Homo sapiens: one gene and its partners. The protein of the gene in region 1 purifies or fractionates together with the protein of each later gene. This does not show direct contact. Each region holds a gene or a part of one and is shown in the gene's direction. Other genes may lie near its edges. The genes, in order: WWTR1, USP1, JUP, CREB3L2, NDFIP1, DDX17 and AMOT.

Region 1 (4,212 bases):
TTTTTATAATTTCAACTTTTATTTTATATTTGGGGGTACATGTGCAGGTTTGCTACATGGTTATGTGATGCCGGGGTTTGGGATACGATTGCTCTCGTCACCCAGGTAGTGAGCATAGTACCCAATAGTTTGTTTTTCACCCCTTGTTCCTCCCCACTCCCAGTAGTCCCGAGTGTCTGTAAAAATGTTGAAAAAAAAAAAAATGGAATGCTTCATGAATTTACATGTCATTCTCATGCAGGGGCCATGCTAATCATTCCAGTTTTAGTATAGGTGCTGCCAGAGCGAGTACGGTCATCTCAATTTTAAAATCCAACCAGAAACACTCAATCTCAACGACAACATAAAATAACAGCTGAAAAGCCACTGAACCCCCAGGCACTATTAATAAACTGTAGCCCCTTCCTCATAGATTATACAAGTATAGTTTTACATCTGGGCGCAGGATTTTAAATTCTGTTGTTTTTTTTTTTTAATTCATCTTTGCTCCATATAGTCCCTTCCTCACAATTGCATCAAGACACCACTGTTTGTTTGCCATGTTTCCACATTGGGGTATTTATGCTGTTCTAGTTTTTAGTTGTAATATATGGGCCACCCTTTCTCCTGGAAAGTGACACTGGTTTATAGTTCTAGTATCCAATTTTTTTCATGTCATTCACTGCATTTGAAAAGCAATTGGCAGTGGGTATTTGGAATGCTGAGCAACTCAGAGGATTCAAAATTGTCACTTCCAAGTTCCAACATGGTAACGACATCCTCCCTCAGGAATTAAAGAGAAGAGAGTCAGGGTTACTCTTACCTTGTCCCCAGCCTGTGCATCCTTCAGGTCCAGCCTCACCAGGCTTCCCGATTACCTTTCTTTTTCTCCTTTTCTCAAGGAGTGAGACTTCCAATTGCAGAAACTGAAGTTAGTCTTATTAGCCTTACCTAGACTTAATTATGAAAGTCATAAACTCTAAGAAGATATTCTAGAACCAAAAATAAATGACAGCCAGGGTGTCCACTATTTGGAGTTATTCATGAAAGTTCCTTCTCCATTATCATTGACGAAAGTAATTGTTTTGTGTTGAAAATAAAAAATTCCTTCCCCCAAAGTGTTTGCCATAGTGCCTGTAGTTTTTTACACTCTACTCTTTGATGGCTTCTCTTTGTGTTGTGAGTCTAAATTGTTGGAAAGATCAAGAGTCAAACTCATAGCCAGGTGTCTTACAAATGCAGTACATTAAAGCTGCTCCCCTGGCGTCTTTCGTGTAGGTTGTCATCTTTGCATTGAGAAGATTGCAAAGACTATCTTGTGAGGAGTGACACAGGAATAGTTTGCACTGATTGTTTTACTGTTCTTCAGTTTATTACTTCAGTTCTTCCCCCACCACCACCCCCTGCCACCTTTATCTCTCTCTCTGCTTTTTGAGTGTGAGATTTATTTTGCTATCTTTGGAATAGCCTTAGGAAGTGGCTCCTTCCTATGTTTAATAATTCTTTACTTTCATCTTCTAAACACTGGGAAGCCAGTAAGGATAAAAAGCAAAGTTAAGGAAAAAAGCTCAGGAGATCTAAATCTAAGTTTGACATTCAAAAAAAAAAAAAAAAAACCATAAAAGAGGATGGATTCTACTCTATGTCTCTTTAAAATAACCTCAAGTGGGTAAGTAGGGAGTGTTTTATTTTGAAGCCGTAATGTGGAATTAAATGACGTCCTGAAAAGAACATAGTTTTAGCCAACAGGCAGCCTGATTTGAATCCTTGCTTCTCCATTCCTAGTAGCGCCTTTGGGTAAGTTGCATAACCTCCGTGAGCCTCAGATTTCTCACCCATAAAGTGGGAGTGATATGCTCACGGCAGAGTTGTGAGGAGTCATGAGATCACAGAGACCAGCTCAAAGTGCTCTTCTCCAGTAAGAAGACTGATGTCATACATACAATGGACTTGATAATGTCAGAGTGCCACGTTAACCTGGTTAAGTGAGAATCAGCTCATTGAGTGTGGGAATGTGAGTGCCAAGTTAACCTGGTTAAGTTAGAGTCAGCTCATTGAGTGTGGGGCCACCTCTGTGAAGTCTTTGTAGGAACTGGACATACATCTTCTCAAGGGGAGAAATGTTAATTATACAGTAGCAAAATGAGGGAAGCTGTGGGGGCAGGCAGAGCTCAAGTGTGGCTAGAAAAGATCTATCAGGCCTGTGGACCACGCGCTGGCCACATGCTGAAGGGAAACGAGCCAGCTGAGCACTCCATTTGCAAAACATACATGGCAGCAACAGCTGGGCTTGGTGCGAAGATCCAGTAAAGGGAATAACATGAGCAAAGGCTGGGAAATCATCCATCCTTCCAGAATATTCTGCAGTAATCACACCCTTTTAAGAATTGCCTTGTGGCTGGGCACGGTGGTTCACACCTGTAATCCCAGCACTTTGGTAGGCCGAGGTGGGTGGATCACCTGAGGTTGGGAGTTCAAGACCAGCCTGACCAACATGGAGAAATCTTGTGTCTACTAAGAATACAAAATTAGCTGGGCGTGGTGGCACATGCCTGTGATCCCAGCCACTCGGGAAGCTGAGGCAGGAGAATCACTTGAACCCAGGAGGCGGAGGTTGCAGTGAGCCGAGATTGTGCCATTGCACTCTAGCTTGGGCAGCAAGAGCGAAACTCCATCTCAAAAAAAAAAAAAAGAATTGCCTTGTGTTTGTCTCTTCCACTTTTTAAGTGGATAAACTGCAAAGACCAAAAAGATTACTATGAGATTGCAGAGCTGCTTCTATTTTAAGATTGTTAACTTTAATGAAGAAGCTTAGCCAGTATCCTCATGCCTTCCATCCTGAGAAGAAAGGATAAGAGTAATTTTTTTTTTTTTTTTTAATACGGGGTCTCATTCTGTCACCCAGGCTGGAGTGCAGTGGTGTGATCTCAGCTCATTGCAACCTCTACCTCCTGGATTCAAACGAGTCTCGGGCCTCAGCCTCCTGAGTAGCTGGGATTACAGGGGTGCGCCACCATGCCTGGCACTGTTTTTTTGGGGTTTTTTTGTTTGTTTGTTTGTTGTATTTTTAGTAGAGACAGGGTTTCACCATGTTGGCAAGGCTGTTCTTGAACTCCTGACCTCAGGTGATCCACCCACCTCGGCCTCCCAAAGTGCTGGGATTACAGGCATGAGCCACCACACCCGGCCTAGGAATTCTTTAAAACAGAGATTTTGCTTGGCTAAAAATTATATTCTTGAGTATCTGAAAGTTAAAATGGGAAATTAGTAAAAATGAATGATTCTAACTGGAGATGAAGAGAAAAAAAGGCATCCAGCACATTAGATCAGATTGTTTTTTAGACACTTTTTAAAGCCTCATTTTTATCTGTTACACTCTAGTAAGTAGAAGAAAGTTATTTTGGATTTTGTTTTTTCGTTTAACGTTATTTTTCAATATCAGTAACACTATATTGAGGTCATATTGTTGAATTTGATTTAATTTTTCAGTTTACTACCCTTTGCAATGAAAATACTGTAAAATGTTACCCAGGAGTCATTTATATTTTGTGACTTCTAGAAAAGCCATTGTGTTTTGCTATCACCAAAATCCAAATTGGATGATGGTTCCTTCATCATTTGGAAGGATATAATTTTTCTCCCTGGAAAACACAGATTGCTAAAGTGAACTTTCGGCAATTTTGCTTAAAATAGTGAAACTTCCCTACACACGTTTCAGGAAGGCTACTGCACTTGTAACACACAAAAGATAATTTAACAAGTTTTTAAAAAATGACGTTATGGTGGAAGCTGGCCTTAGTTATCAATGCTTCTCAATTTTTGAAGTAGATATTATCTCTTCAGAAAATTGTTTGGGACTTTTTGAATTAACCTGTTGTTTTGATATTGTGTAATTAATAGTGGCTGAAGACCTGGGTTTTTCTTTCTCTCAGGACAATGAACATTTATTATATTTTTGTATGTATATAACTTTGTATATATCAATGACACCCAGAGCCATGGATATGTGGCAGACACTATATGGCACTTTACTCTAACTTTTGTAAAAGGAGCATATGATCCCAATTTCTAGATGGGTAAACTGAGAATCAGGCAGGTTAAGTGTGTCTAAGCTTACACAGCCACAAAGCTCGATCTAATGACACCAAAGTCAGTAGTGCATTCTGTCCCATACTATGACACATAAAGAACCTATATTCTTCATGTCATATCCCAGACACCTACTTTTCCTCT
Region 2 (4,212 bases), on another chromosome or scaffold:
AAAATTAGTGCTATTATGCAACTTAGAAAATCTAGTATTCTTAAGTGAGACAAAGACAAAGGGGGAAGGTACTTAATTTGTTCATAAAATTATTGGTTTGTGTGTTTCTTTCTTGACAGGGAAATTGCAAAGAAGATTCTTTGGCAAGTTATGAATTGATATGCAGTTTACAGTCCTTAATCATTTCGGTTGAACAGCTCCAGGCTAGTTTTCTCTTAAATCCAGAGAAATATACTGATGAACTTGCCACTCAGCCAAGGCGACTGCTTAACACACTGAGGTATAGCCTATAATATAATTTTAGGGTTTCAATTTAGCTACTTGTTTATATCCTTGGAGGAGAATGACATGCGAAGAAACAGGAATAAAGGGCAAGGAAAGTAGAAACTCTAGGTCCACAGTCCTTTATATCCCAGAGACTCTGAATACTGGAAATTTTTTTCATAAATTTGGTGCTAAATTCGTTAGATCTGAACATATTATATGAGGCTTTTTATAGTCATTCATATTTATCTCTAACGTGAATATTCATACATGCTTCTATAGAAGTAGTAATGTGTTTAGTTATAGAGTACTCCCATATCAAGTCGGTGATAAATATTTTACTTATATGCCATATAATCATTGAATCTGAAAATGTCTGAATTTCTAAATGCGTGGTCCTAAGGATTTCACATTAAGAATTATAGGACTATATTCAAAATATGTGTAAGAACTGTAAATTCCAAATATTCTATTTTTATATGTGATTAGAGGAGAACTGTTGGCTAACTGGATTAGATTGCTTTTTGGTATTTTCTTAAAAATGAAACTTTACATATAAAATAGCCTTATTCAAATACAATTATAGGGCAAGTCTTTAAAACAATCACTTAAGCATTTAGTTTAAAAATAGAACTAGGTGCAATATATTGCTATACCTTAGTTAAGAGGTATTGTAGGCCGGTCACAGCTCACACTTGTAATCCCAGCACTTTGGGAGGTGAAGGTAGGTGGGTCATTTGAGGTCAGGAGTTCAAGACCAGTGTGGCCAACATGGTGAAACCCTGCCCCTACTAAAAATACAAAAATTAGCTGGGTGTGGTGGTTTGCACCTGTAGTCCCACCTACTCGGGAGACTGAGGCAGGAGAATCGCTTGAACCCGGGAGGCGGCGGTTGCAGTGAGCCAAGATTGCGCCATTGCAGTCCAGTCTGGGCAACAGATCAAGACCCTTGTCTCCAAAAAAAAAAAAAAAAAAAAGGCCATTGTAGCGTGGTGGCCAAGAGCGGGTTTGAATACTGGCTTTTCATCCTAAGTAGTTCTGTGACCTTGGGCAAGTTATTTAACCTGTCTGTGCCTTAGTGCTTGTATCTGTCAGTAATGGTGATAATAGTACCTCATAGGGTTATTGTGAAGATAATGTATACATAGGAGATAAAAAACATTTTGACTAAAACCTGGTGTATGGTAAGCATTATCTAAGTATTAGTTATTAATATATTTAGAAGAGGATCAAAGTATTATAATGAAAATAGGGTACAATTTACTCTTACTTTTAGTTACAGATAAGAAATTCCAAATTAGTGCTGAATAAATGTCTTGACATTTAAAAAATGAAATAATTTATGATTTTCCTTACATGAATTAATTTCTATATAGGCTTTATGTACTGTATCTTCAAAACTAGAATAGATGAAATGGAAATTTTTATTTATAGGGAACTCAACCCTATGTATGAAGGATATCTACAGCATGATGCACAGGAAGTATTACAATGTATTTTGGGAAACATTCAAGAAACATGCCAACTCCTAAAAAAAGAAGAAGTAAAAAATGTGGCAGAATTACCTACTAAGGTAGAAGAAATACCTCATCCGAAAGAGGAAATGAATGGTATTAACAGCATAGAGATGGACAGTATGAGGCATTCTGAAGACTTTAAAGAGAAACTCCCAAAAGGAAATGGGAAAAGAAAAAGTGACACTGAATTTGGTAACATGAAGAAAAAAGTTAAATTATCCAAGGAACACCAGTCATTGGAAGAGAACCAGAGACAAACTAGATCAAAAAGAAAAGCTACAAGTGATACATTAGAGAGTCCTCCTAAAATAATTCCCAAGTATATTTCTGAAAATGAGAGTCCAAGACCCTCACAAAAGAAATCAAGAGTTAAAATAAATTGGTTAAAGTCTGCAACTAAGCAACCCAGCATTCTTTCTAAATTTTGTAGTCTGGGAAAAATAACAACAAACCAAGGAGTCAAAGGACAATCTAAAGAAAATGAATGTGATCCTGAAGAGGACTTGGGGAAGTGTGAAAGTGATAACACAACTAATGGTTGTGGACTTGAATCTCCAGGAAATACTGTTACACCTGTAAATGTTAATGAAGTTAAACCCATAAACAAAGGTTAGTATAATTCTTAGACTTTGATAGGTAGAAGCATTAGCAGCTACAGAATTAGAATTTTCTCTTCCTAGATACATGTACAATATAATCTCTGGCTAAAATTGTTTCAAGAGAAGGAAATTTAACACTGAATGTGAACTATGGTGTTTTAAGTGCTATGCTTAGATTAGTGTGTGTGTATATATTGTATGCATATATATGTGTGTGTGTGTGTGTGTAATGTCATTAAAGTAATTTTAATTTATAGCTTATAAAGTAGGGAAGTTCGGCCAGGTATGTTAGCTCGCACCTGCAATCCCAGTACTTTGGGAGGCCTAGGCGGGCAGATCACCTGCGGTCAGGAGTTCAAGAGCAGCCTGGTCAACATGGTGAAACCCCGTCTCTACTAAAAATGCAAAAATTAGCCAGGCATGGTGGCGCACGCCTGTAGTCCCAGCTACTTGAGAGGCTGAGGCAGGAGAATCGCCTGAACCCGGGAGGTGGAGGTTGCAGTGAGCCAATATTATGCCACTGCACTCCAGCCTGGGGCGACAGAGCAAGACTCCGTCTCAAAAAAAAACAAATAATAATAAAGTAGGGAAGTTCAGTATATTTTAATGTACATTTAAGAGTACATTTCCCTTTATGCAGTGTTTGACATAAACTGATGAAGGACATTGCATTTAGTGAAATTTTAAAAGTAAAGACTAAGTACAGTCATGTGTTGCTTAACAACAGGGATATGTTCTGAGAAATGTGCTGTTTCATTGTGTGAATTTCACGGTGTACTTACACAACTAGATGCTAGAGCGTACTACACAACTAGCCTATATGGTATAGACCAGGGTATCTAATCTTTTGGCTTCCTTGGGCCACACTGGAAGAAGTGTCTTGGGCCACACCACACAGAATACACTAATGATAGCTGATGAGCCAAAAAAAAAAAAATCAAAAAAGTCTCATAATGTTTTAAGAAAGTTTATGAATTTGTTACGGGCTACAGGCAAGCTTTGCATGGCCTATTGCTCCTAGGCAACAAACCTGTATAGCATATAACTACTGAATACTGTAGGCAACTGTAGCACAATGGTATTTGTGTATCTAAGACGTATCTAAGCATAGATATGTAAACATAGGTACAGTAAAAATAATCATAGACTACTGTCATATGCGGTCCATTGTTAAATAATTGAAACGTTGGTAGGTGGTGCATAACTGTAAGTTACACGATACTTGAACTAGATTTTTACCTAGTTTTGTCCAGATCTACAGATATCAGGGAAAATGTGTAATATTGATATAGTGAATAGTTTTACCAAAAATGTCATCCTTATTCTGGGTTTATTCTATGGGGAGGTGTCTGTAGGAAGGGAGTTACAATACAACTGACTTTTTTTTATTTTTTATTTTTTTTATTTTTTTGGAGACAGAGTTTTGCTCTTGTTGCCCAGGCTAGAGTGCAATGGCATGATCTTGGCTCACTGCAACCTCCACCTCCCGGGTTCAAGCGATCCTCCTGCCTCAGCCTCCCGAGTAGCTGTGATTACAGGCATGCACCACCACACCCGGCTAATTTTGTATTTTTACTGGAGACAGGGTTTCTCCATGTTGGTCAGGCTGGTCTTGAACTCCGACCTCAGGTGATCTGCCCGCCTCAGCCTCCCAAAGTCTTGGGATTACAGGCTTAAGCCACTGTGCCCGGCCTACAACTGACTTCTTTTAAAGACAGTAATTTCATAGTCAGTTTTATCTTTACAGGGACCTTAAATTTCATTAATAGGGTACCTCTAATAAGCTAATAATGCTAATAAGCTGATCTATGAAAATGGAACTGTTATTCATG
Region 3 (4,212 bases), on another chromosome or scaffold:
GAGATGGAGTCTCGCTCTGTCACCCAGGCTCACTGCAACCTCCGCCTCCTGGGTTCAAGTGATTCTCCTGCCTCAGCCTCCTGAGTAGCCAGGATTACAGGCGTGTGCCACCACCCCCGGCTGATTTTTGTATTTTTAGTAGAGACAGGGTTTCACCATGTTGCGCAGGCTGGTCTTGATCTCCTGACCTCGTGATTCGCCCGCCCCGGCCTCCCAAAGTGCTGGGATTACAGGCGTGAGCCACCTCACCTGGCCCAAACCAAGCACTTTCATTAACTATTTTTACTTAATCCTTATGGCTGGCCAGGCTGGATGGCTCAGACCTGCAATCCCAGCACGTTAGGAGGCCCAGAAGGGTGGACTGCTTGATTGAGCCCAGGAGTTCCAGACCAGCCTGGGCAACATGGAGAAACCCTGTCTCTACAAAAAAATAGAAAAATTAGCCGGGCGTGGTGGTGCATGCCTGTGGTCCCAGCTACTGGGAATGTTGAGGTGGGAGGATTACCTGAGCCCAGGGAAGTCAAGGCTGCAGTGAGCTGTGTCACTGTATTCCAGCCTGGGCAACAGAGTGAGTCCCTGACTCAAAAAAAAAAAAAAAACAAAAAAAACGCGTATCATTATTCGCATTCTACAGAGGAGGAAATTGAAACTCAAGGAACTTAAGTAATTTCCCCAATGTTGTACAGCGAGACCCAAGCAGCACCAAGACTGACGTTTGGGTCCTCTGATTCCAAGCCCAGAACCCATCCTGCTGTATTGCCCCATGCAGCTCTGGAAAGGATTTTTTTTTTTTTTTTGAGATGGAGTCACGCTCTGCCACCCAGGCTGGAGTGCAGTGGCGCGATCTCGGCTCACTGTAACGTCTACCTCCTGGGTTCAAGCGATTCTCCTGTCTCAGCCTCCCGAGTAGCTGGGATTACAGGCATGCACCACCACACTAGGCTAATTTTTGTATTTTTAGTAGAGATGGGGTTTCACCATGTTGGTCAGGATGGTCTCGAACTCCTGACCTTCAGGAGATCCGCCCGCCTCAGCCTCCCAAAGTGCTGGGATTACAGGTGTGAGCGGAAAGGATTTTTCTGCACCCCCTTTTGAGAGCCTCTGCCTGACTGGGGAGAAGAGAATTCAGAAGGGCCCATGAAGGCATGTGTGAGTGGTGAATGTAGGGCAGGTTTTGTAGGTGGGGGTGATACCTGTCCTGGCCACCAGCCCACTTAAATCTCCCCAGTGGCTTGATTTTTAGTTTCCGGTGGAAGCGGCTTCTCCCCAAGGCCAGGGCTGTGGTGAGTGTTGGGGGGAGGTTGAGAGGGAAAGAGGAGGCAGGGGTCAAAGCTGTGCTGCCTCCTAGCTTGGGTTAGGTAGAACCATGGCTGTTCTGGGCTTGTTCATGTGTAGGAAGTGGGAGTTGCCTGCTTTGCTGGGGGCTGGGGCTATGCCAAGATAAAGGGGTGCTGCCCTGTGGGGATTGGCGAGAAACGAGAGTCCGATTTAGGCCTGGGCTAATGTCCTGCTGGAGTTGACGAGGCAGTGCTGCCAGGCTGCTCTTGATGGGGAACTGGCTGTCCTCTGCTCTGAAGCCCAAGAGACCTGAGATAGGCAGCTGCTGGGAGGGCTTTTCTGGTGATGGAGGTGGGGGTCATGTGTGCTGCCTGTCAGCCAGAGCCTTGGCCCTCTAGGGAGGAGCTGGTGTCAGATTGTTCTCCAGACCTGCCTGGTTCTGGTGTCTCTGCCAACTGGACATCTGACACCAGAATGGGCCTGGATTTGGGGTCTGGGAAATGGGTTCTCTTTATGTGATGGTGCAGCCGGAGTACTGAACCTGTCACTACCGCGCTTCTGGATTCCCTGAGGGCAGGCGGGGACCCCAGGCAACGGGATTATTGATCGTGGAGAAGGCTAATGGGACTTGAGACAGAGAAGAAAACAGAATGAACCCCATCCCACTGACTACTACAAAGAGGGCATGAGGTTGCAGTTTTTCCATCTCCCCCGAGGACTTGAGAGCTGCAGGCCCGATGCACTTACTGAAGGGACGCAGTCTAGACAGGAGGAGGGGCTTTCTGCCTGCTAAAGATGAAATCTTGAGTTGAGAAATAAGAGGGAGAGGTGGAGACTCAGCATTGACTCTTCTCTGATGAGGGCCATCCTGTGCGGCAGGGAGGCCAGACAGGAATTGCTGCCCTTTGGGGAGACTCCTCATTTGTATCTTTTGGGAGAAGAGCGACCTGGCAGTGAGAGGGAAAGGCATCTGTGAGCTGGTCCTGTGACCCCTGTGAAGAGGAAAAGCAAGCAGTGTGGCTGGGCAGGTCACCAGGGCTTGTGTTCCTGCAAGTGACACTGAGCGGCCTCTCCTGGGACATGGTTGAGTCTGGGGACATGGAATATCTTATTGTGAAGCGACTTCCTCTGCCAGGCCTGAAGGGCAAGCTCATGGACCACTCTCCTTTGCTCAGCCTCCTGGCATCTTGGCCTTTGGGGCCAGCAGAGCAGGAAGCTCAGCTTTCTTTTTCTCTTTCTTTCTTTCTTTTTTTTTTTTTGAGATGGAGTCTCTCACTCTGTCACCCAGACTGGAGTGTAGTGGCACAATCTTGGCTCACTGCAACCTCCATCTCCCGGGTTCAGGTGATTCTCCTGTCTCAGCCTCCCGCGTAGCTGGGACTACAAGCGCCTGCCAGTACGCCCAGCTAATTTTTTTTTTTTTTTTTTTTTGAGACGGAGTCTCACTCACTCTGTCGCCCAGGCTGGAGTGCAGTGGCACGATCTCCGCTCGCTGCAAGCTCCGCCCCCTGGGTTCACACCATTCTCCTGCCTTAGCCTCCCGAGTAGCTGGGACTACAGGCGCCCGCCACCACGCCTGGCTAATTTTTTTGTGTTTTTAGTAGAGACGGGGTTTCACTGTGTTTGCCAGGATGGTCTCGATCTCCTGACCTCATGATCCACCCGCCTCGGCCTCCCAAAGTGCTGGGATTACAGGCGTGAGCCACTGTGCCCGGCCTAATTTTTGTATTTTTAGTAGAGACGGGGTTTCACCATATTGGTCAGGCTGGTCTTGAACTCCTGACCTCAGGTGATCCACTCACCTTGGCCTCCCGACATGCTGGGATTATAAGCGTGAGCCACCGCTTTTGGCACTCAGCTTTCTTTCCTCCTCCCTTCTCCTCTTCTCTTTTCTTTCTTTTTTTTTTTTGGTTTGTTTTTTGAGATGGAGTCCTGCTCTGTCGCCCAGGCTGGAGTGCAGTAGTGCAGTCTTGGCTCACTGCAACCTCTGCCTCCTAGGTTCAAGCAATTCTCCTGCCTCATCCTCCTAAGTAGCTGGGACTACAGGCATGCGCCACCATGCCCAGCTAATTTTTGTATTTTTAGTAGAGATGGGGGTGTCACTATGTTGGCCAGGCTGGTCTTGAATTCCTGACCTCAAGTGATCCACCCACCTCAGCCTCCCAAAGTGCTGGGATTACAGGCGTGAGCCACTGCGCCCGGCCTTCTTTCCTTTTTTTGAGGTAGGGACTCGCTCTGTCCCTTAGGCTAGAGTGCAGTGGCGTGATCACAGCTCACTGCATCCTTGAATTCCTGGGTTCAAGCAATCCTCCCGCCCAGCCTCCCAAGTAGCTGGGTCCACAGGTGTGCACCACCATGCCCAGCTAATTTTTAAAGTTTTGTGTAGAGACAGGGTCTTGCTATGTTGCCCAGGCTGGTCTTGGACTCCTGAGCTCAAGCATTTGTCCCATCTCAGCCTCCCAAAGTGCTGGGATTATGGGCATGAGCCACCATGCCCAGCTGAAGCTCAGCTTTCTGTGTCTTTCCCTACCATGGAGACAGTAGCAGGGACCAGAGCAGAGTTGGGACAGGGGCTTGGCAATCAATAAGCTGCTTATTTAGGGGAGACTCCTCCTCTTCCTTGATTGAGAAGGTAATATCTGGCTGGGGCAGTGGCTTACACCTGTAATCCCAACCGCTCTGAAGGTTGAGGCAGGAGGATTGCTTGAGGCCGGGACTTTGAGACCAGCCTGCCAGCCTGTGCAACATAGCAAGACCCCATCTCTTAAAAAAAAAAAAAAAAATTAGCCAAGCATGGTGGCATGTGCACGTGGTCCTAGCTACTCGGGAGGCTGAGGCGGAAGGATTGCTTGAGCCCAGGAGTTCAAGGCTGCAGTGAGCCATGATTGTGCCACTATACTCCAGCTTGGGCAACAGAGCGAGACCTTGTCTCAA
Region 4 (4,212 bases), on another chromosome or scaffold:
GAGGTGGTAGACATAGGCACAGTCCTGAAAGATGAGAGGGCAGTACAGAGTTTTATATTTGCCCTCCTTCTCGAATGATCCCTGAGTTACAGTGTTCATGGGAAACAGGGGTCTCTGATGTGACATTGCTTTTGCAGGAGTTATAAGATATAGCATCTAGATTAATAATTGAATTAATTACAGTGCTTGCAGCTAGAAGTAACTGAAAATGGATTCAGATCGGCTCATACAGTAAGTAAATTATCTCATGTTGCAAGAGGTTGTGAAATAGAGCCCCTGGCCGGGCGCGGTGGCTGACGCCTGTAATCCCAGCACTTTGGGGGGCCAAGGCAGGTGGATCACAAGGTCAGGAGTTCAAGAGCAGCCTGGCCGAGATGGTGAAACCCTGTCTCTACTAAAAATACAAAAATTAGCTGGGCGTGGTGGCGGGCGCCTGTAATCCCAGCTACTCGGGAGGCTGAGGCAGGAGAATCCCTTGAACCTGGGGGGTGGAGGTTGCAGTGAGCCAAGATCATGCCACTGCACTCCAGCCTTGGTGACAGAGTGAGATTCTGTCTCAAAAAAAAAAAAAAAAAAAGAAAGAAAAGAAAAAAAAAGAAATAGAGCTCCTTGTTGGCTGATTCAGCAGTTCCTCAATGGACCTTGGTTCTGCCCATGTGCAGCTTTCATCCTCAGGTTGGATGTGTGATGGACATAGGAGTTACAGGGGTTACATTCAAAATGACAACATCCAGAGGAAGAAGAGAAGTTGTCTCTTTCTTGTGTCCCTTTTTTAGAATGGAAGAAACTTTTCTTACTAGCCCACTAGCTGATTTTTCTTAAAGCTTTATTGGTAAGGATTCGGTCATATGACCATTCTTAAGCCAATGGCTGGAAAGGAGAATGGGATTTATATTATCAGCTTAGATTAATCATATGGGGATGGAGACTCAACCAGCATGACCATTGGGATCATTAGTAAAATAGTCTGAGTTAACAATTCTTTCCTTAGTCAAAAGGTATGTTTCTTTTCTCATGAACATGGGCTAGCAACTAGAAAATTTAAAATTCACAGTAATTTGCCCTGGGCGCAAAACAGTAAACCCAAGTACTGTGCCACTCGCAGAGTTCTTTTGTTTTTTGTTTTTAAATAGAGACAGGGTCTCCTTATGTTGCCTAGGCTGGTCTTGAACCCCTGGGCTCAAGGGATCCTCTGCCTCGGCCTCCCACAGTGCTAGGATTACAGGCATGAGCTATCACGTCCGGCCCAGCAAAGTTCTAAGAATATTATTTAGCTGTGCTACCAATGCCCAGTGAAAGAAGACTATAGATGTAGAAATAGCCTCTTGAAAGTGCAGGGAAAGGCTAGGGAGGGGTGGGAGCCAGGAGGAGATTATGGCTATGTCTTGACTCACTAACTAGGAGATGTAGAATTAACTGTATTATCTGGACTCTTGGCGTCAGAGTAGAATACCAGGGCTGGAGGTAGCTAGCTGAGCCTGTAATCATGCTTACCATGCAGGACAAGAATGATTTGTTCTGTTTGGGATCGACAGCAGGTGGCAAGCTAAATGCCATTTTTCAAAGAAGCAATTTTTCCAGTTGCATATGGCTGTTCAAATATTGATGAGGGCACATGTGCCTGTCTGCAGCTAAAACTGCCGGCCTCAGCCTGACATGGCTCTACGCTGTCTGGTGACTCTCTTGGGGTAAATAGCCTTAAGCCTTAGCTGGGCATTTGGTAGGATTGAGGCCTATGGTTGCAGGGCATCTGAATTGTCCAAATGAGTGATCTTATGAGTGAGGGAGTGCTGCCCTTGTTTTCTGCCCCTGTGGAATCAGGATGGAAAGGAAATAATGAGACCCACTGTCTCTGGATCAACCTTGAGCCTATTTCTCTTTTTCCCTGCTCAGTGGATGCACCCTGGCCTTTCTAAATGAAGTGCTAAGGGATCTTGATTTTTCCTTGAATCAAATTGTATAGGTTATTCATGAGGCACATGGGAGAAGATGGGCCATTTTATCTATGGGGAATGTAAGACATAGAGCAGTAGAGATTTGCTCAGCACAAGTTCCTTGAGGACAGGAGACATGACTGTCTCTTCTATACCCTCATGGTCCTTAGTCAAGTGCAGGATGCCCAGAGAATCGTAAGTGCTTGATGCATAGTTAAGTAGAGTGAGGCAGTCCTGGAAAATGGATAAGCTGGGTGGCTTTGGCCTGTTTTTATATATTTTTAAAACTCTGGGCAAGACGTGGTAGCCCATGCTTGTAATCCCAGCGCTTTCAGAGGCTGAGGCAGGAGGATCGCTTGAGCCCAGGAGGTTGAGTTTACAGTGAGCTGTGATCACGCCTCTATACTCCGGACTGGGCAACAGAGTGAGACCCTGTCTCAAAATAAATAAATAAATGAGCAAACAAACAAATAAACTCTGGATTCTTGTAAACGGTTTTGCAAATGTGAAAATTCAGTATAATAGTGACTTGGGTAATTCAGTGTTGATATCTTTTCTTGTTTTGATTAGAGAACAAGGTGGGCGTGGGGTGATTGAAACAGTCCCTGTTTCCAGTGGGAGTGGAGTTGATGGCATGGTGGAAAGGGTGGGCTTTCAAGGCAGGCCATTTTGATGTTGAGGGACACAGGCTCTCTGGTGACCTTGGGTACATTACTTCACCTATTTGGATTTCAGTTTCTTTGCATGTCACTGCCTGATCCATAATAGAAGTACTTTTCCAACCTATCCCCTAAGTCAAATGTCTTCTCTTTGAGAACAAGGTGTCCCAACCTTAGGAGTCTGACATCATTCAGAAAGTGGAGAGAGCCTGTCATTATTCTCTCTCATGCATCTTTATTTCCTCTCCTCTCCAGCTCCTACATTGTGCTGTAAACACAGGCCTCTGCCTTGAACACATGTTTGCCAGATGCTCCCTCTTACTCATTTCTTTTCTCTTGTTTACTGCCAGGTTTTCTCAAGTGCGTGGTCACCAGCCATGGCCTCCATTTCCTTAGTCTCTACCCTGTATCCTCTGCCCGCTGGGTCCTACTGCTCAACCTCTCCCTGGCTGCTAAATCCAATAGTCTTTTCTCTGTCCTTACCTGCAGGGCCTCATGGGACTATTTGGCAATACTGACCACAGGATTGTCTCATAACTCGTTTTTGCTTTGGCTTCCATGACACTCTGGCAAGCTTAGTTCTTCCTCCTTTTCTGGCTTCCATACCAGCTGTTAAATGTGAGTGTTTTGGTACTTGGCCTTCTCTTCTCTCTGTATGTTCCCCTGGGCTCTGCTATAAACTTCAGTGCATCTGGTTCTCAGTTTTTTATACTTGTTATTTGTCTTTTGACGAAAAGCAGATCTTTGGAGTTTGACTCAAGCCTGCTAGGTCCACCTGAGCAGCAGAACAGCTCTGGCTGGGTAACCCTTGAATTTTCATGTGTTTCTTGATGTGTTTCAAAGAAGAGCTGGGATGTTGATCCTTCTTATCGCTGCACCCATTTATCTCAGGGCATGTTGAGTGACTCAGCTCTCTTGCAGTGTAAACCCAAGAGGAGCTCATGGGTCATTCCTGGGATTCAGCTGCTTCTACAGTCCGTGTCACTCATTAGAGGCAAGCTGTGTTTTGCCTAGACTTTTGCTTGTACTTTGGCTTGGGAAACCCTCTGTGGCATCCTGTGGGGGTAGGTCTAATCTTTTCGACTGTGTGGAAGGTCAATTCAAAAGTGAGACGTAACTTCTTAGATCACGTACCATATTTTCCTCTTGTGTGTACAGCTGCTCTGGGGCTCAGCTACAGTTACCTCATGTTGAATTGCCTGCTTTTGAGTTGCTGTATTCTGGTGTAGGTGTAATCTGTTTATTTGAACTTTACTGATATTACGAAGAGCTTTGGGGATTTTTTTTTAAAGAATTGAGATGGGTTATTCTGAACCATCCATATTTTAATGCCCGATTCTTGTTAGAATTATTAACAGTAGTTCTTGGAAGAGAGTTTTTCTTTGGAGGATAAAGCTTTTTTTTTTTTTTGAGGCAGAGTCTTGCTCTGTTGCCCAGGCTGGAGTGCAATGGCGTGATCTTGGCTCACTGCAACCTCCATGTCCCAGGATCAAGTGATTCTTGTGCCTCAGTCTCCCGAGTAGCTGGGATTACAGGTGCCCACCACCATGCCTGGCTAATTTTTTGTATTTTTAGTAGAGACAGAGTTTCGCTGTGTTGGCCAGGCTGGTCTCAAACTC
Region 5 (4,212 bases), on another chromosome or scaffold:
CTAGGGAATTTTGCTCTAAGCTGATGCCACCAGTAGTTTAACTGCACATAACTTCAAATTGTTTTATCCTAGACATTAATTATATTTCATAATTTTATGGTAGATTATAAAGTAAATCCTACCATGAGAATAACTTCATATTTTTATTAAGAAAGAAAAAAAGTCTCCAAGAGATTCAAGTGACATCCTCAGATTTATTTGTTTTTAGGGCTTTAAAATAATTATTTTGGTTTCTTAAAATGTTCTTGTTTTACCTTTAAGCAAGTACAACAGCTTAGAAGAATTATATTCTTTTTTGTTTGTTTGTTTTGAGATGGAGTGTCTTTCTTCTTGCTCAGGCTGGAAGGCAATGGCGCGATCTCGGCTCACTGCAACCTCCGCCTCCCAGGTTCAAGCGATTCTCCTGCCTCAGCCTCCTGAGTAGCTGGGATTACAGGTGCCCACCACCACGCCCAGCTAATTTTTTGTATTTTTCGTAGAGATGGGGTTTCACCATGTTGGCCAGGCTGGTCTTGAACTCCTGACCTCAAGTGATCTGCCCGCCTCGGTCTCCCAAAGTGCTGGGATTACAGGTGTGAGCCACTGCGCCCGGCCTATATTCTTATAATAATGGACAATTTAGATAAAGCAACTTTAATACTTCTGTTCCATTCATACTGAAAATTGGCATGATGGTTTATCTTTTTTTCAAGTCATTGTTGCCAATAAGCTAGGCAACTGGCAAACATCATGTATGAAATTTTTTGGGCTTGACATACTTTCCAGTGGTAATTGCTTCTAGTGGTTGGCTAGGTGGGGGTATGAGTTAGAGTAGGCTCTGGGTATCCACAGGTTCTACATTCGCAGATTCAACCAACTGCAGATTGAAAATAGGGGAAAATAACCATACAATAATAAATAATAGTGCAAGTAAAATATACACTATAACAGCTATTTTACATAGCATTTACATTGTATTAAGTGTTATAAGTAAAGATGATTTAAAGTACATGAGGTAGGTTATGTGTAAATACTATACCATTTTATGTCAGAGGCTTGTGCATCCTCCCATTTTGGTATCTGTGGGGAGTCCTGGAACCAATTCCCAGTGGATACTGAGGGATGACTGTATGATATGTCTTGTTAACTTGACCAAGAGTGGTAGTAAAGCAAGTGTAACTTGATATCACTTAGCACATCCTGCTGTTACAATAAGGCTTACTCATGATTTTTCTGAATAACATAATTTATATTAAATGTCCTAAATACTAGCACTGATCAAGTTTAAGAGCATTCCTAGTGAAATATTTTCTTATTAATGCAGTTCCCTTCATATGTATATTTATTTATTTATTTCCTTCCTTCCTTCCTTCCTTCCTTCTTTCTCTCTCTCTCTCTCTCTCTTTCTTTCTTTCTTTCAACAGAGTCTTGCTCTGTTCCCCAGGCTGGAGTGCAGTGGCGCAATCTTGGCACACTGCAACCCCTGCCTTCCAGTTTGAAGCCATTCTCCTGCCTCAGCCTCTGGAGTAGCTGGGACTACAGGTGCCCGCCAGCAGGCCCGGCTAATTTTTGTATTTTTAGTAGAGGTGGGGTTTCACCATGTTGGCCAGGCTAGTCTCGAACTCCTGACTTCAAATGATCTACCCACCTTGGCTTACAGAGATTACAGGTGTGAGCCACCATGCCCAGGCTACCTTCATATGTATTTTTCTTTTCTCTTCTCTCCTCTTCTTTTTTATTTATTTATTTATTTATTTTTGAGACAGGGTCTGGTTCTGTCACCTAGGCTGTAGTGCAGTGGTGAGAGCTCTGCTCACTGCAATCTCCGCCTCCTGGGTTCAAGAGATTCTCGTGCCTCAGCTTCCCAAGTAGCTGGTGTTACAGGTGCATGCCACCACGCCTGGCTAATTTTTGTATTTTTAGTAGAGATGGGGTTTCACCACGTTGCCCAGGCTGGTCTCGAACTCCTGGCCTTAAGTGATCTGCCCATCTCTGCCTCCCAAAGTGCTGGGATTACAGGCATGAGCCACCGTGCCCGGCCCATATGTATAATATATTTCTTATCCCCCTCCCCGAGCAATTTAGCATAATCTTTGACCATTTTTCTGTTTTTGTCTTTTAAATTAGTTTATCTCAGCAATATTAATTAGTACTTACCATAATCAAAGGCTTGAATACAATTTGGAGGTCTATCTGGAGACTGGACAATTTATGAATAGAGATATAAGGGTTTAGGGAGTGGTGCCTGTTTAATAATGATTTCATTTTCTTTTTTTGCTTTTTTTTTTTTTTTGAGACGGAGTCTCACTCTGTCGCCAGGCTGGAGTGCAGTGGCGAAATCTCAGCTCACTGCAACCTCCGCCTCCTGGGCTCAAGTGATTCTCCTGCCTCAGTCTCCTGAGTAGCTGGGACTACAGGCGCCCGCTATCACGCCCAGCTAATTTTTTCTATTTTTAGCAGAGGGGGTTTCACCATGTTGGCCAAGATGGTCTCGATCTCTTGACCTCGTGATCCACCCGCCTCCATCTCCCAAAGTGCTGGGATTACAGGTGTGAGCCACTGCGCCTGGCCGATTTCATTTTATCATTCGATGCTTAAATGTGATATTTAAAATTAAGCATTTTGTATTAAATAGTAATACATTCTTCATGTGCTAGATTCAAACAGTAACTTTCTAAAGAAAAACTTGATTTCCCTTTCCTCCCTATCTCTTTGCAGAGCTGTAACTGCTCCTCAAGTTTGGTGTGTGTTCTACAGGCTTTTTTTTTTTTTTTTTTGAGACAGGGCCTCACTCTGCACCCAGGCTGGAGTGCAGCCACATAGTCTCGGCTCACTGCAACCCTCCATCTTCAGGCTTTCTTCTTAACCTTTCCTTGGCTTTAAATGTTTTTTAAATAAATCTGTACTTTCAAATAGACTTTACTTTTTGGAACTTTTTTCCCCCTAAGATGGGTTCCTGCTATGTTGCTACCCAGGCTGGCGTCAAACTCCTTGGCTCAAGCGATCATTCCCCCACTGACCTCCCAAGTAGCTGGGACCACAGGCACACGCCAGCACACCCAGCTGAAACATTTTTAATTTTTCAGAAACACTGAGAAGACAGTAGAGAGTTTCCATATGCCCTATGCCCAGCTTTCCCTATTAGCATCTTATATCAGTATGGTACGGTTTTCACAATTATTGAACCAATATTAGTACATTGTTATCAATTAAAGTCTGTACTTTGTTCAGATTTTCTAAGTTTTTACCTAATGTCCTTTTTCTGTTCCAGGATCCCATCCAGGATCCAGGATGATATAATGTGGTAATGTTACATTTAGTCGTCCTGTCTCCTTAGGCTCTTCTTGGCTGTGAGTTTCTCAAACTTTCCTTGTTTTTGATGAGCTTGACAGTTTTGAGGAGTATTGGTCAGGTCTTTGTAGAATGTCCCTCAATTGGGGTTTGTTTGATGTTTTTCTCATGATTAGACTGGGGCTGTGGATTTGGGGGAAGACCACAGGTAAAGTGCTGTTCTCATCACATCATATCAAGAATGCACACTTTCAACATGACTTATCATTGTTGACATTGACCTTGATCACCTGGCTGAGGTAGTGTTTCTCAGGTTTCTCTTCTGTAAAGATACGTTTTACCCCACTTTCCATACTTACTCTTGGGAAGGAAGTCACTATGCATGGTCCACACATAAGGAGTGGGGAGTTATGTAACACCTCGCTGAGGGCCAAGTATTGACATGAATTATTTGGAATTTCCTGCATGGGGCATTTGTCTCTGCTCTGATAATTTGTTTAGTATTTATATCTGTATAGACTCATAAATATTTATTTTATTCTTCCAATTATCCAATAACTGCTTTATTTTATTGCTTAAATTGCATACCTCCATCATTGTGGATTTTTTTTTAACCACTTCCATACTTTTTGGCACTAGGCTCATCTTATATATTTCCTGCACTATCCTAGAATCAGGCATTTTTCCAAGGAGCCTAGGTTCCTTTTATTGAAAAATAATACTACAAACCAAGATCTGTGCTCCTTGCTACTAGGGTGTCATTGCTTTTAGGCCTTCTAAGCTGACAGAGCAAGGAACTATATATGTCTGTATATTAACCTGTGGGTATACACATCTGTAACTATTTCTGTATGTACCATCTATCTATATTAAGCTAAACATAAGTTCATACTAATATCTCCACCTCTAATTTGTTACCATATGGGTCACTCTAGCCTACTC
Region 6 (4,212 bases), on another chromosome or scaffold:
GAGAGAGGAAAAAAAAATACATGAATGATAATCATCAGTTTAAAGCCTTAACAGGAATCTTACTTTCAAGTTTTATTTTTTCCTAAGTCACTAAGGTTTGGGTAGCATTGCAATGTGGCAATAACAATGAAGTCTTTTATAATTTGCAAGAGTGATAATCCAAAGACTTTCTACCTCTTGAAAAGTACCTTATTTAGCTGCTTCATTTGCAAGTGTGGCGGGAGCGGCAATTGAGGTGGCCTTTTGGTCTGTTCAGTATTGAGTCTTAAGCTGAGGGGCATATTAAATATGTCGCTGACACGGGTATCCCTATGCTATGTGCTCTTCCTGTTCTGATTCTTAATTTGTCTTCACTGTCTCAGTAGTGGTATAAATGGAATTAGCCAAGTTCTGCCTGTTGAGTGTAGGTATCCAGTGATCCCAATAAAATCTCCTGCCATCAATTTTTGTTACGTATGTATTTAGAGGAATGTCTGGCTGGTTAAGCCAGAGTTCTAATGGCTTTGAATTGCAGGAAATTGAGGCCCTGTAGAATAATACACCTACTTGCCTATCAATGATAAAGTGGAACTTTATATAAGATGAAGTTACAAGTGGGTTAGAGTGGGAAAAGGGAACTAAATTCAGTACAATATTTTACAAGGAGTAAAGAAACTGAGAAAATGCTATACAGTTTGTATGCCAAACAAAGACCTGTACTTTACAAGATCGAAATAGGGAAAATTAAGGCCATCTTAGTGTTAAGATTCTTCTAGGAAAAGTAGCTTCTGATTTCTTAAATATTAGCTTTGGCTAGTGGTCATATTTGTATTCCTCTTGAGCTTGTCTGTTGTGAAAGGTATATAAAAAGCAAGAAGTTGATCTTAAGTAATTAGTTGAGTGTTAAAGCCTTAAATAAGTCTTGTTAGTGTTTTTTTCTCTGTAAATTAATAATACCATTTGGGAACAAGAAGGAGATAGAAGGTAAAAGTAGAGATCAAAGAAGAAGGAAAGGTCATAAATCTATGTTCAGCTTTTTTTTTTTTTTTTTGACGGACCCTCCCTCTGTCTACCAGGCTGGAGTGCTATGGTGCCATTTCAGCTCACTGCAACCTCCGCCTTCCGAGTTCCAGCGGTTCTCCTGCCTCAGCCTCCCAAGTAGCTAGGGATTACAGGCGTGCACCACCACGCCTGGCTACTCTTTTGTGTTTTTAGTAAGAGACAGGGTTTCACTATATTGGCCAGGCTGGTCTCAAACTCCTGACCTCAAGTGATCCACTGGCCTCCGCCTCCCAAAGTGCTGGGATTACAGGACTGAGCCACTGCCCCCGGCAGGCTCAGCTCTTTTATTAGCGTAAGCTAAAAATGAAGACCAGTCTACCAGTCCTTTCCAAGACCCAGTTTTGCTTTGCAGATAAGCAGACAGGTGGAGTGCTTATCACAGTTTAATAGGGGAGCAGGCCCAAGAAGCTATTCTAAGATTGAGGGACTTGCTTGGAGTGTATCTTCCTTCTTGTCCACAATCTTCCCTTTAATTGAAACTTAACTTAATGTCATCCTTTGCCTGCATGTCTGTTACACAAAAATAGAGACTTGTGTCTGTTTTGTTTAGTAACTCCAGCACAGCACCACTTCAAACAGTAGCCGATACATACTTGGTACCTAGTAACTTGGTACCTAATAACTATTTGTTGAATGAAATGATGCTAACTTGTACTGAGTGCTGGCTATGCCAGATACTTTTATAGTACATTACACATTATTAGGTCATTTTCTCAGCAGCCTCTGAAATAAGTGGTATTATTTCTACTTTGCATAGGAAACTAAGGTGTGTGGAAGTTAAATAATTCTCTTCAAATTATACAGTAAGTGGCAGAATAAAAACTCAAACCATGTCTGGATCCAGAATCTGTGATTGTAATCCCTAGGATGTATTTCTCTCAATAAAGGGATTTTTAATTTTTTGCCTATTGTAGCTATATTCATAAACAGTATTTATTGTTGGGTAGTAAGGGAGGTTTTACACATTTCTCCATACCTTTAAATCACAGCAAATAAAATGGTCTTTTTGGAGGTAGGCTGGTAGTATCCCTAGAACTCCATCCTTTTTGAATATTCTTATGGCATGTACGATACGTTGCTTTAAAAATACTGATGAACTAACTAAAAATTCTGTTCCTAGATTTGGAGCAAGAGGTGGTGGTGGCCTTCCCCCGAAGAAATTTGGTAATCCTGGGGAGCGTTTGCGTAAAAAAAAGTGGGATTTGAGTGAGCTCCCCAAGTTTGAGAAAAATTTTTATGTGGAACATCCGGAAGTAGCAAGGCTGACACCAGTAAGTTTACATGTGTGTTTTAATGTACAGATTATTGAACCAAGTAGATATATTGGTTAGAGTTTATTCATACGCTACTGTTGCCGTTTTACATTTTATTCTAGTGTGGTGATATTTTTCTTAAAAAATTTTTTGGTTAATTTTTTTTTTTTTTTCCTTTTTGTAGAGACCGGGTTTCGCCATATTCCCCAGGCTGGTCTTGAACTCCCTAGCTCAAGCAAACTACCTGCCTCAGCTTTTCAAAGTGCTAGGATTACAGGCGTGAGCCACTGCACCCAGCTGATTTTTTTTTTTTTTTTTTTTTTTTTTTTTGAGACGGAGTTTTGCTCTTGTTGCCCAGGCTAGAGTGCAATGGTGTGATCTTGGCTCACTGCAACCTCCGCCTCCTGGGTTCAAGCGATTCTACTGCCTCAGCCTCCCAGGTAGCTGGGATCACAGGCACCCGCCACCATGCCCGGCTAATTTTTTGTATTTTTAGCAGAGATGGAGTTTCACTATGTTGGGCAGGCTGGTCTCAAACTCCGGACCTCGGACCTCAGGTGATCGACCTGCCTCAGCCTCTCAAAGTGCTGGGATTACAGGCGTGAGCCACCACGCCCAGCCTCTTTTTATTTTTGAGACGGAATCTTGCTCTGTCACCCAGGCTGGAGTGCAAGAGTCAGGGTTTCACCATGTTGATCAGACTGGTCTCCGTCTCCTGACCTTGTGATCTGCCCGCCTCAGCCTCCCAAAGTGCTGGGATTATGGGTGTGAGCCACCATGCCCAGCCTTTCTTACATTCTTATCTAAGACCCCTAATACTCATAAAAGGGGACCAGTTTAAATATGCATTTAATTTGTTCTCTTGTTGATAATGCTTACTAATCTGTTTATTATACATGATTGAAATATTGTATATTAGGTCATGTTTTTTCATCTGTTAGTGAAAAAGATAGATTGGCTTTTTTTTTTTTTGAGGTGAAGTCTCACTCTGTCCCCTAGGCTAGAGTGCTGTGGCATGATCTTGGCTCACTGCAACCTCTGCCTCCCAGGTTCAAGCAATTCTCCCACCTCAGCCTCCCGAGTAGCTGGGATTACAGACATGTGCCACCACGCCTGGTTCATTTATTATTTATTTTTTTTTTTTCAGTAGAGACGGAGTTTCACCATGTTGGCCAGGCTGGTCTCAAACTCCTGACCTCAAGTGATCCACCCACCTCAGCCTCCCAAAGTGCTGGGATTACAGGTGGGAGCCACCGTGCCCAGCCAACATTGTCTCTTCTTGTACCTCATTACCATTGTTTTTTGGACTCTACACATGAAATGGTTACTCTTTCAGAAGAAAGTGTAATGGAAAGAGTACTTGGGTCCAAGTTCCACTTTTTTTTCCTTCTCATTCTGACCTTGAGCAAGTTACTTATCTTTTTTCTCCTATAGAAAATGGAACTCTTAATCACCTACATCATTAATTAACTTACAAAGTAAGTAGGAGCCTTGCAGAGTTAAAGTGATACACATGAAAGTACCATGTAAACTATTAAATATTTGCCAACATAGCTGTGGACTGGATAATTGCTCAGCTAGCTTGGAACATAAATTCTGAATGTTTAGAATAACTAGTTTACTAACTTCTTTCATTTTTTTTCAATAGTATGAGGTTGATGAGCTACGCCGAAAGAAGGAGATTACAGTGAGGGGGGGAGATGTTTGTCCTAAACCCGTGTTTGCCTTCCATCATGCTAACTTCCCACGTAAGTGTTCTTCAATCTAGAACCTTAATTTGTTAAATTGGGTTGAATGGGAGACAAGGGTAGTAGGTTAAACTCTTTGAGCCAGGCTTGGGGTTTTGTTGAAAGGACAAGAGATTGTTTTTATGGTCATCAGTTCTGTTCTAGTATTTAGACTGAGGTTTTGTTTTTGT
Region 7 (4,212 bases), on another chromosome or scaffold:
CACCAATTACTGAAGATCCTTAGAGTGAAAGTTTCATTATTGAACATTATTACTTAATTCCAATACTTAACATTGACAGATTCTGCCCAAAGAATTTTTGAATCTCTAATGAATTAGTGTGTACTATACAGTGCTGAGAGAGAGAAATCACCTACCAGCCATTTTTTGTTGAGAAAATAGACATCAAGAAAAGAGGAATCAGTTGTATACCCTGTAAACCAATAGTATGATTAGAATTTGAATATTAAATTGTGTTACTAAAATCAGTTTCAGTCAACCCATAGTACCTGTTCAGAAGAATTGATGGTGAGGGAGGGGATATGCTAATCGTATACCCTTTCCAGAAGGATGATCTTTATATTTTTCAATTTCTAAATTTTGTCAGAGGCACACTTCAAATAAAAGAGGCTTCCCCTTTAAGCTTCTACCCAATAACAATAACAGCAAATCTAAATGACTGTTTCTGGAGAGCTGAAAGGCAACTTTGTCAGTAATAAGTATTCCAAGTCCTTCTCTTATTAAGCCAAGGAGCATCCAAAATGGAGACTATGAAAATGATTTTTTAAAAAGATGTTTCAGAGCCTTATGAGATCAGAGAAAAAGATTTGCATCGAGGCAGGGATCATTACTGTCTGGTGCAAGCCAAGCTCTCTTCACCTTTTATTTATTTGAGTCTTTATTTTGCATTTTGTAGCTGCCTTCATATGCTGAGCTGCTTTACAAATCCTGTTATGGGGTAACTTTCCCCACTGTCCTGCCCCCACCTCCACAGCCATAAGATTTGGGTTTTTGCTTTAAATAGAATACAGAGAGATGAAGCCTGTGAATATGGACCTTGAAAAGTTACCCCCTTTGATTACCCTAGTTGACTGTTCCAGGTTTCTCAAGCATTCTTAGGAGTTAAGTCCAGATTGAATATTTAACTCATGCTAAAAGTGAAAGAGAAAACCTAGAGCTCTTATGCCTCCATGTTCTTCATCATATCAGTGCTAGGGCCTGGAATCCCCAACAATCTATTAATTTTAGAGTCAATTCTCTACTTTGTTTCTGCAATCGAATCCTCACCCTCCAATATCCATTTTCTTTCCCTTTAGAGGACTGATTTATCCATCAACTGGGTGTTAAGCTTCCTGTTTCCCCTTCCCAGGTCAAGGGCAGCCCAGGTGCCCAATTTCTCTCTCTCTTCACAAGGCACCACCAGCAATAGAGATGAGAAATTCTGAAGAACAGCCAAGTGGAGGGACCACGGTATTGCAGCGTTTGCTACAAGAGCAGCTTCGCTATGGCAATCCTAGTGAGAATCGCAGCCTGCTTGCCATACACCAGCAAGCCACAGGGAATGGCCCTCCTTTCCCCAGTGGCAGTGGGAACCCGGGCCCTCAGAGTGATGTGTTGAGTCCCCAAGACCACCACCAACAGCTTGTGGCTCATGCTGCTCGACAAGAACCCCAGGGGCAGGAAATCCAGTCAGAAAACCTCATCATGGAGAAGCAGCTGTCTCCTCGAATGCAAAATAATGAAGAACTCCCGACCTATGAAGAAGCCAAGGTCCAGTCCCAGTACTTTCGGGGCCAACAGCATGCCAGTGTTGGAGCTGCCTTCTATGTCACTGGAGTCACCAACCAGAAGATGAGGACTGAGGGACGCCCATCAGTTCAGCGGCTCAATCCTGGAAAGATGCACCAAGATGAGGGACTCAGAGACCTTAAGCAAGGGCATGTCCGTTCCTTGAGTGAACGACTAATGCAGATGTCACTGGCCACCAGTGGAGTTAAGGCCCATCCACCTGTTACCAGTGCTCCCCTCTCCCCACCACAACCCAATGACCTCTACAAGAATCCCACAAGTTCCAGTGAATTCTACAAGGCCCAAGGGCCACTTCCTAACCAGCATAGCCTGAAGGGCATGGAACACCGAGGCCCCCCACCAGAATATCCCTTCAAGGGCATGCCACCCCAATCTGTAGTGTGCAAGCCCCAAGAGCCAGGGCACTTCTATAGTGAGCATCGCCTGAACCAGCCAGGGAGAACAGAGGGGCAACTGATGAGGTATCAGCATCCCCCTGAGTATGGAGCAGCCAGGTAAGAGAGTTCTGTTTCTGTCATTTCCTGACCTCATCCCCAACCAGCTTCTGCTGTGTGTTGGGAATCTTAGGGAAGGAACGGGCAGGTGTTTGATATAACAAACTCTGCAATGCATGACAGGCCTCTGGCTTCGTGAATTGCCTGCCAACCCGAATTTGTATCCTCTTTAGCCATAATTAGCACTGTATTAACAATCCCTTAGCTTTGTAGGTTGAGCATGGCCTCAACTGCCTAGTGGACGAACAGGAGCAAAAGTCTTGTTTTCAGCAGCTATTTGCTGTCCTCTCTCCTAGGATGTTGAAGGGGTCTGTGTTTCTCATAAGCCCTCCTTGAGAGGTAGAAGCAAATTACCTTGCACTTTAATTAGTCTGGAACATCCTATCACTTGCACATATTCCCCTCCATGAAGCTTTCATCATTTATTTTTGCAAACAAATCTGTGTATTTCTTGTCAGTTACCATTTTTCCATAGAATTACCATTATTCTTTTGGACTAAACAAACACCCAGATGTTATGGTGGGGGAGCTATGTATGTATGTAGGTTCAGAATGTTACTTGCCTTATGCTTGCAGTTTATGAAATCTGGACTGTTGTATCTTTTTTTTGTAGAGAATTTATTAGTTGCCTGTCACATTTTTAAACCTCTGAGTTAAATTCCCATCACATCATATAGAAATTTTGGTCAGATGCTAAAATACAGAAGGAAAAATATTACCATTTCTGTCTTATATATTTAGTTGTTCCTATATATACTTCTTAATTATTCAGAGGTCCATTGTCCCACTGCTATATTCACTAGACCTTATGATTCTATGATTCTGTTCATTGTTCCTGTTGTTAGTATTTGGGCCATGTCTCTGATCAGTAGTATTTCCACATATAGGGCAGGAGAAAAGGTTTAAACCATGGGGACCGATGGTGGCATTTAAGTGTGGTATCCTGCCTCATGGCCATGAGTAATGATGGGTGACCATCAGGTTTGAAGTGCTTGGTCCTAGGCTGGCCTTCATTTATATGCGGCTCACAGACTAGGTCTGTGATGTCCTTTGATGTCTACCTCTTTGTCTCCTGTACCCTACTTGCTCATTTTGGAAAAAACCTTCTGGCTTGAAGTTCATTGAGTGACTCAGGAGAGAAGGCAGTCATGGGGTGGAGTAGGGTGAAAGTGAGAGAAGGCACCTAGCATTTCCTGGTATTTCTTTTTTTTCCCCTGCAGGTCCTGTTTTTGTAGCCAGAGGCAATTCACTTTGGACTCCACCTCTAACTTTGCCAGTTTAGGATTTTTTTTTTTTTTTCCCTCTTAACCCAGGTTGATTTCCTAACCCTTTTCAACCTCCTCTGTGCAGCTTTCAAAGGGCAGGAGCCTATGTTCTGATCAGTGTCTTGGAACAGGAAATGGGGTAACCAACAAGGCTACTCAGGTTTAAAAGAGATCAAGAACCAGATTCCCATCTGACCAATGAAACAGAAGACCCAGGGAGGGGTTGGTCTGTTCAAGACTGCCTCACTTAGTGGAAACCCATTCAAGCCAGCAAAATATCAATGAAGCTGGGGGTTTTTATTTTGCTTTTCCCATCAGTATGGAAGAGTCTGTTGATGGGCTGATGTCTGTTGCCTTGTGGGAGGGGAGTGTGTTGGCTGGGGTGTGGAGCAGAAGCCACAGCCCCACTCAGCACACAGCCCGCCTTCCCAGGAAAGCTATTTTCAGAACTCATTCACCAGTATTGTTTGTGATCTGAAATGACTCCCACAGTGTTTGAAGCTAGATGGAAAATTATCTGCCCTTTGATCTGCCTAAATAAATAATGAGGAGCCCAAAGAGGTTTTCTTTTTTTTTCCTTTTCTTCCCATCCTGATTAAACCACCGGAGAAATTTAGCTGCATGTATTTTACAGGAAGATACATATTTTTTATCCTCCCACCTAAGTTATCTGTGGATTTCTCTTTCTTTCTGTCCTCAAAAGCAACAGAGCCCATGATGATCTACCCTTGTTGAGCAGCATTTTAATACACAGTTTTGCTGTAACAGGTTTTTCTCTATGGGAAAGGAGCAGAGTGCTTGATAATGCTTGATGAATAAGCAAACCTAAAATGGCCCTAGTGGGAGGATGCTCCATATGAAATTTG

Evidence for each region.
Region 2: the proteins of WWTR1 (region 1) and USP1 purify together in Homo sapiens (affinity purification with western blotting; one study listed by BioGRID). This does not show direct contact.
Region 3: the proteins of WWTR1 (region 1) and JUP purify together in Homo sapiens (co-immunoprecipitation; one study listed by IntAct). This does not show direct contact.
Region 4: the proteins of WWTR1 (region 1) and CREB3L2 purify together in Homo sapiens (co-immunoprecipitation; one large-scale study listed by IntAct). This does not show direct contact.
Region 5: the proteins of WWTR1 (region 1) and NDFIP1 purify together in Homo sapiens (affinity purification with western blotting; one study listed by BioGRID). This does not show direct contact.
Region 6: the proteins of WWTR1 (region 1) and DDX17 purify together in Homo sapiens (co-immunoprecipitation; one study listed by IntAct). This does not show direct contact.
Region 7: the proteins of WWTR1 (region 1) and AMOT purify together in Homo sapiens (affinity purification with mass spectrometry; 3 studies listed by BioGRID and IntAct, with this or other methods). This does not show direct contact.

The regions. Positions count from the first base shown.
Region 1 is NC_000003.12:149,521,711-149,525,922, reverse strand, and holds part of WWTR1 (WW domain-containing transcription regulator protein 1), read left to right. Parts: intron 1-4,212. UniProt on the Homo sapiens protein: Transcriptional coactivator which acts as a downstream regulatory target in the Hippo signaling pathway that plays a pivotal role in organ size control and tumor suppression by restricting proliferation and promoting apoptosis.
Region 2 is NC_000001.11:62,443,040-62,447,251, forward strand, and holds part of USP1 (ubiquitin carboxyl-terminal hydrolase 1), read left to right. Parts: intron 1-119; coding exon 120-280; intron 281-1,698; coding exon 1,699-2,390; intron 2,391-4,212. UniProt on the Homo sapiens protein: Negative regulator of DNA damage repair which specifically deubiquitinates monoubiquitinated FANCD2. Also involved in PCNA-mediated translesion synthesis (TLS) by deubiquitinating monoubiquitinated PCNA.
Region 3 is NC_000017.11:41,779,682-41,783,893, reverse strand, and holds part of JUP (junction plakoglobin), read left to right. Parts: intron 1-4,212. UniProt on the Homo sapiens protein: Common junctional plaque protein. The membrane-associated plaques are architectural elements in an important strategic position to influence the arrangement and function of both the cytoskeleton and the cells within the tissue.
Region 4 is NC_000007.14:137,991,699-137,995,910, reverse strand, and holds part of CREB3L2 (cyclic AMP-responsive element-binding protein 3-like protein 2), read left to right. Parts: intron 1-4,212. UniProt on the Homo sapiens protein: Transcription factor involved in unfolded protein response (UPR).
Region 5 is NC_000005.10:142,114,991-142,119,202, forward strand, and holds part of NDFIP1 (NEDD4 family-interacting protein 1), read left to right. Parts: intron 1-4,212. UniProt on the Homo sapiens protein: Activates HECT domain-containing E3 ubiquitin-protein ligases, including NEDD4 and ITCH, and consequently modulates the stability of their targets. As a result, controls many cellular processes.
Region 6 is NC_000022.11:38,499,230-38,503,441, reverse strand, and holds part of DDX17 (probable ATP-dependent RNA helicase DDX17 isoform 1 precursor), read left to right. Parts: intron 1-2,161; coding exon 2,162-2,312; intron 2,313-3,942; coding exon 3,943-4,042; intron 4,043-4,212. UniProt on the Homo sapiens protein: As an RNA helicase, unwinds RNA and alters RNA structures through ATP binding and hydrolysis.
Region 7 is NC_000023.11:112,820,124-112,824,335, reverse strand, and holds part of AMOT (angiomotin), read left to right. Parts: intron 1-1,147; 5' UTR 1,148-1,209; coding exon 1,210-2,081; intron 2,082-4,212.